2 linked regions of the Homo sapiens genome follow. The protein of the gene in region 2 interacts with the protein of the main gene of each other region in a pairwise test. Each region holds a gene or a part of one and is shown on either strand. Other genes may lie near its edges.

Region 1 (3,500 bases), on a different chromosome or scaffold from region 2:
CACACCTGAAGTACTTGCCACTCAGGGGCTCCAGGCCCTCAGCCAGGGCGCAGTGCAGGCTGGTCTGCGCCCCCTCCCGTGCCGTCTTGACAAAGGGGGAGAAGAGCCGCCAGAGCAGGCAGAGCAGGGAGGAGTGCCGGACCAGCTCAGAGCGGACGACGCCTGGGTGCACTGCGTAGGTGGTGACCCCGGTGCCTGGGACAAAGAGGGCACAATTAGATCAGGGACACACTCTGAGCCCAGGAAAACAGCTTATCTCCTGCAGCAAAATACACAAGTGAGAAGGAGGGACTCAGGAAACATAACCCCAGGATTCAGCAGGTACCACTCCTGGCCAGGCGGAATTTGAACAGGAATGAATTGATCTTTCAGAAAGATCTATAGCCTTCTCAGCCTTCTATGTTCCAAAAGGAGTGCCTGGTTCGAGGTCCTTCTATTTCAATGTCGTTTTTATACTGTGGCTTTAGTACTACTAATAAACATGACAACATGTAGTGAGTAGTATCAATCATTGACAGTGGTATCTTTATCATTTCTAAAGGAGGAGTTTAGGGGTAGCGATCTGATTGGAAGGTGGTGGGTAGGACTTTATTTTGAGCTGCATTTGCCTGGCAAGCACATTTCATGAGGTATAGATTGAGGGATGGTGATGCAGATTGTGGGGGATTAACACCCCCCCCCCACAAGATATCCCTGGTGCGGTCACTATTTTTCAGTACCAATTATGTGCCAGGGCCATACAACATGCTTTAAATGTATTATTTCATTTAATTCTTAAAGAGGCTTGTAAAATAGAATATTATGTTATGATACCCATTTACAACAAAGAAAACTAAGTCACAGAAAGTTTAAGTAAATTGCCTAAGGTTATACCTGGCAGGGTGCAGGGCCAAGGTCTGAACTCTGATGTAAAGTTAAAAACATGGAATGGACTGTCTGCATTTGAATCCTGGCTCAGCTAGGAACCTTCCTTGGGCAAATTTCTTAATCTGTCAGTGCCTGTCTTTTCATATTTAGAGTGGGGGAAAATAATAGCACCCACCTCACAGGAATGTTGCAAGTATTAAATGAGTTAAGATGTGTAGTACATGGCACACATAAACCTCTCAATTATTATTGTAATAGTTATTGTTTATTTTTATGATTACCGTCTTCTTCTACTGTAGGCATTCTGGAAGTGAAGATCATTGTTCCCAAACTCTGGCTTATTCACTGTAACAAATGGACCCCTAGATCCGCAGATGTCAGAGCCAGCAGCTCACCCAGTGCTCCAGGAGAGCACAGAATCATTAAGGAATAAGAACCAGCCTGACCTGATTTTACAGCTGAGAAGATGAAGTCAGGGGAGGTTAAAGGGGCACATCCACATCCACATCCACATGCGGCTAGCATGTGGTAGAGCAAGAACTTGGACCCAGGGGTCTGAAATCCAGCCCTAACTCCCTGAGTCCAGGCAGTGGCAGCTCTGTAGCTCAGATCACCATGTGGACCTCAGCAAATGGCACCCAGAAGGAAGCACCCTAGGTTTAAAGCTGAGCACCCACATTCCGGTTCTGATGCCCTCACCTGCCATATACTCTTTAGCTGGCCATTTCCTTGGACCTCAGCTCTGCTCTATAAACTAGGAGTAATAATACCTGTTACCAAAGGCCTCTTCTGCCAGATCACCTGAGGTCAGGAGTTTGAGACCAACCTGGACAACATGGTGAAAGCTCGTCTCTTCTAAAAATACAAAATTAGCCAGGCGTGATATTGCGTGCTTGTAATCCCAACTACTCAAGAGGCTGATGCAGGAGAATCACTTGAACCCAGGAGGCAGAGGTCGCAGTGAGCCAAGATCGCACTACTGCACTCCAGCCTGGGCGACAAGAGCGAAACTCAAGTCTCAAAAAAAAAAAAACAAAAAAAACAAAAAGCCTCTGTCTGTTGCAAAAAGCTACTGTGAAAATCAAATGAGATAAGAGATAAGATGTGACACAAATACAAGGTAACTTTTTGAGGTTCTTAACCCCTATTTGATTTTAAGCTCCCTGGGGGCAAGCACTCTGTTTTTATTCCATTCATAATTTCATTCTCCTTAGTCCACAGAGATATTACTGACACGTGCATGTTTGACAGCCTGACTTCCCAAGTTGCTGTGGACCTCTAATTTGGTCTGAGGACCATTTTTGCTATTCCTCTTTCTCCAGACTTACCTTGGAGCCTCTTGGCCAGCTCACGAGTAAAAAGCACATTGGCCAGCTTGCTGTGGCAATAGGCAAAACCCCTGCTGTAGCGCTTCTCGCTCTGGAGGTCGTGGAAGGGAATCTTGCCAATGTGGTGAGCCACCGAGGACACATTAACCACCCGTGCAGGGGCAGACACCTTTAGCCGCTCCAGGAGCAGGTAGGTGAGGAGGAAGTGGCCTGTGAGGAGAGCCAGCAGGGAAGATTGAAAGTGGAATGACAGCCCAGGCTCAGCATGTGGGAGCCAAGAGGACTTCAGTGTTAGCTCACTATCTTCTGGGTGTGAACCAATTTTGATGCCATGAGTAACTCTAATGGTCAGTTTGGTCTGAGTTTGTGGATTCCTCAAAGCAAGAGCCAGAGCTAGACTACAAGTAAGGCAATCATACTTAATTATATTACTTTGTACCTCTGCCCTTGACCCACCTGCTGGCTTCCAACTCCCACTCTGGCCATGATCGCATAACTAGGGACCCAGGTACACTTGTGTATAGGCAGAAGGATAGAACAGTCAGGGAAGATAACATTTGCTTAGGATCAGAAAACATGCTCCATGCTCTCCTCCCTAAAGTCTTTGCCTTGAACGCTGAACCCCACCCTGCCTCGTACTCAAGTTCTCAAGGATTGCCTACCTCCGTGGACCAACCCATGGCTTGGTTGGCCATCATGTAGATGTGACCCCTCCAGCCAAGCCCAGATGCCTGCATAACCCCAGGTCTGGCCCTGCCTGGCAAGCCTTGTACTGCCACTGCCCCATCCAAGAATGACATTCTTCTCCCTGGTATTTCCTGAAATTTGGGGCTTCTTAATGGTATGGGTAGGAAGATCTCACTTTTTTAGACTGATCAGGAGAGGTACAGTGAACAACAAGCCAATGGGTCTAGTCTATTGGAATTCCTAGGCTCTATGAAGGCCCCTGGACATTCTCCACATTTACACAGTGTCATCTTCCTAAAGAAAAGATAGTGGGTGTACCTCATTTTTTAGTCACCCAAAGATACTTACCCAGGTGGTTGACTCCCAGGTGGGTTTCAAAGCCATCAGCTGTCTTGGAATATGGACACATCATTACTCCCGCATTGTTGATCAGAATATGGAGCTGCTTTTCCTCTATAGGGCACAACCAAAGAGATCCTATGGTTAGCAAGGAGTCCCCTAGCTGCCTGTAACAGACCTGCATAATTGCCCTTTCCCTTTGTTCATTAGTTGTCTTTGTTGGGGTAACATTTTGATAGGAGTCACTTGCTCTGCCCCTTCCTTTTAAAACAAGGTATT
Region 2 (3,312 bases):
ACTTTGCTGGTCACATCCATTGGAAAAAGATTGGGCTGTCAAAGGACGCAGTGAGTCCCATCTTTGGAGGCAGCCAAGTGCACCCGGAGTACTCAACTGCACCCTGAGTATCGCCAGTACACCCTGAGTACCCAAGTGCACCCCAAGCACACCAAGGACCACCCCTGGGTGGATGCCAAGGGGGTAGTCAGGCCACAGGTTGGAACAGCACCAGCTGACTTTAAATCCCTCTCTAACCCTGAGATACAAGGATGTAGCCTACACATCAGGAGGTGAATAGAATCTACCCTCATTTGCAAGAGTTGTCCCCAGGGCAGCGGTGGCTGCAGCCCATCCAGTGTTCCCACTGGGAGATGCCCATGAGGTGCTCAGGTACAGCCCATCCAGTGTTCCCACTGGGAGATGCCCACGAGGCGCTCAGGCTTCGTGGCTCCCCAAAGCTCTGTTTCTGACAAATTAAATTGGTCCTACACTGGTCCCTGCTAAACATCCAAAGATACTTTGAGTTGAATACAAATCTTTATTATTTTGAAAACCACAGCAAAGGCACTTCAGAATCTCCAGGTACCCAGTCTCAGTTGCCGTTCAGTGGGGACAAGAGTGGTGCTGAGGGCATGGTCACACCCTTCTGTGCTGCATGCAGAGGGGTGCAAGGCCAGGGCAGCTGACCTGGTCAGCCACCAGGGGAGCCCACGCCTCTTATAACACAGTGTCCTTGGGTCAGGAATTTGTAGTTTATTTTGTTATTAAGATGGCGAGAGAATTTTTCGTCCATTTAGAGCCTAACATTTTTAGATGAATGTTAATGGCATCTCGGTTGGGATGGATTCGTGTTCGTTTCTCAGCTGCTGAAGGATGTGTGTTCTAAAACAAAAGGGCTCCCAGCCAGCTCTCCGGCTGCATGATAGAGAAGTGTTTTGTAAGACGCTTGTTAAAAACCCATATTCCCTGGCCCCTCTTGTGGAGACCCTGTTTCAGTAGATGGGAATGGGGCTGGGGTCTGTATAACCTGTGCCCAGGAGACTCTGTGACCAGCTTGGGAAGCTCCTGCAGGGAGGAAGGAATGATCCACAAGTCCCCAAGCCCTTCATGCTGAGGCATCTGTCTGGCTGGAGAAACACTAAGGTTGGCATTGTGCTCACACTGGGAAATGACCTGGAGGAAGTTGGGAAGAGGAGTCCAGGCCGGTTCCACCCTCTGGGTCAGAAACCCGGCTGGAAAGCACTGGAAATAGGGAAATAGAAGACCGAAAGGCTGGGACCCCCCTCACACCCAACCTGCGTCCATGGCCGAGGTTGAGTGAGGAGTCCTGGAGACTCTGGCTTCATGGTCTTTGCTCTTGTTCTTCTGTGCCTCAGGGGTCGCTGCCCACCAGGCTCAGCAGGGCGTTCTTGTAGTCACCGCTGGTGTCTTCCTGTGGGCAGGAGGCGCATAAGCGTGAGAAGGGGTTTGCTTGTGCCTGGCTCGGCAGTGGCGGCTGTGTTATTATGACTAAGAGGTGTGCCCCTGGCCTGCACCTGGCCCGGCCCTCCAGGGTTCCTAGCCGCAGGGGTTGTGCCATCACCCCTCTTTCCTTGTTTTTAATTTCAGGCTATTCCTTTACATTTCCTTTTGATTCTCTTACCAACTACATGCAGGATTGATGTGGAAAATGAATCAGAGACAGTTCCACTCCTAAACAAGGAAGGGGTCAGCTGTCCCAGGGTTCTTCTATTCGGGAGCCAGGGTGCCCAGCCATTCATTTACACAACAGGATGCATCATTATTCAACACCTGCTGTGGCAGCTTGGGAATCAAGGCTGAGAGTGAGGCATCAGCACACACCTGGGGGCAGGGCCGGGGGTGGAGGGAGCCTGGACCATCGCACCCTGACGGTGTGGCCGAGGCAAGCCCCTTCACCTCTGTGGGACTCATCTATGAAATGAGATCAATGCTGTGCTGCTGTGCATCTTGCTGAGACGTGGTGAGGGTACAGCAGGAGGAAGGCGAGCTGGTCTGCCCTGCATCTGGCTCACATCGGGTCCACAGTGTTTGTCTCCTGATGAGACTGACCTTGTGGTCCGATGACTGAGGAGCCCTGTTTCTTAGATAGTGGTAGGTCCTGATGGGACTGGCTAGTCCGGGGTCTGCATACAGAGCTGGGAAATGGGCCAGGTCAGATCACCCAGATTCTTCTTCATGCAGTTGAGGACAGCGGGGCCAAGAGAGGGGAGTGAATTCATTCACAACGGCATGGTGAGTAAGGGGTAGACTGGGGCTAGACCCACTTTCCACACTCTGGACCAGTTTAGGTCTCATGGTTATTGTCTACTTTTCACCATTTAGTAAAATTTGCCTGTTTTGAGCCTGAAATCTCATTACGGGTTTCAAACTACAATGAAATTTTTTTTAACTTTTTCCTTTCTAGACACGATCTCACTCTGTCACCCAGGCTGGAGTGCAGTGATGCAGTCCTAGCTCACGGCAGCCTTGGACTCCTGGGCTCAAGCGATCCTCCCGCGTTGGCCTCCCAAAGCACTGGGATTACGGGTGTGGGCCACTACGCCTGGTGATTTTTATTATTTTGAGGACAATTTTTCGAATAGTTTTTAGAAAGAAAAGCATTAATTTTGTTTACTTTTTCAAATACATGAGTTATACTTGGAGTGTTTATACATTTGCCTCTTAATTTCAATGCAGGAGTTTTTAACTCATATTAGTGTTGAAAACCATTTTTGCTTTAATGACATCTGTGGTCTACACTAAAAAGAAACGTTTGGTCAATGTATTCATGATTCTAACTCAATTTTCTTAAGTAACAACATTAGATAAAATTTGAAGAGGGTGGCTTCATGTATCTGTAGAAATCTCTCTGATGCCGTAAGTTACCATGTGTGGTTAAAAGGGTTAATGACAATCAGCTCAGACTGTCTGCAGGTGACAGCACAGTCCAGGCTGGTGTGTGCCTTGCCCTCCTGTCTCCCGACAAGATTGGCTGGGGAGCCTCAAGTGAAACCAAGAATAATTCCAATCCTCTCTTGCCCCTGCCCACCTGTTTCAAGATGTTGCCATCTTGAAACATCTGGAAACAGAAATGTCTTTTCCACCTATTGTCAGCTATGTGTTTCTTGAAAAGTGCACTTAACAACGACATTTGCAGAAGAGCTAGAGACTTGACTTAGTAGCCAAAGAAAACTTGGGGATACATTTGTCCTAATGTGACTTCTGCTAATGAAATCATCAAGACCTCAATTTGCAGACACCCCCAGAAGAGCTGTTTCTCCCAATTATCGCAGCGTGATAATCAGTCTGTGTTTTGAAGGCTCCAGAACT

Evidence for each region.
Region 1: the proteins of ANXA8 (region 2) and RDH12 interact in a two-hybrid assay, tested with the Homo sapiens proteins (one large-scale study listed by IntAct).

The regions. Positions count from the first base shown.
Region 1 is NC_000014.9:67,725,886-67,729,385, reverse strand, and holds part of RDH12 (retinol dehydrogenase 12), read right to left. Parts: intron 3,336-3,500; coding exon 3,231-3,335; intron 2,406-3,230; coding exon 2,196-2,405; intron 495-2,195; exon of another isoform or gene 196-494; coding exon 6-195; exon of another isoform or gene 1-5. UniProt on the Homo sapiens protein: Retinoids dehydrogenase/reductase with a clear preference for NADP. Displays high activity towards 9-cis, 11-cis and all-trans-retinal. Shows very weak activity towards 13-cis-retinol.
Region 2 is NC_000010.11:47,467,493-47,470,804, forward strand, and holds the end of ANXA8 (annexin A8), read right to left. Parts: intron 1,415-3,312; coding exon 1,355-1,414; 3' UTR 501-1,354; downstream 1-500. UniProt on the Homo sapiens protein: This protein is an anticoagulant protein that acts as an indirect inhibitor of the thromboplastin-specific complex, which is involved in the blood coagulation cascade.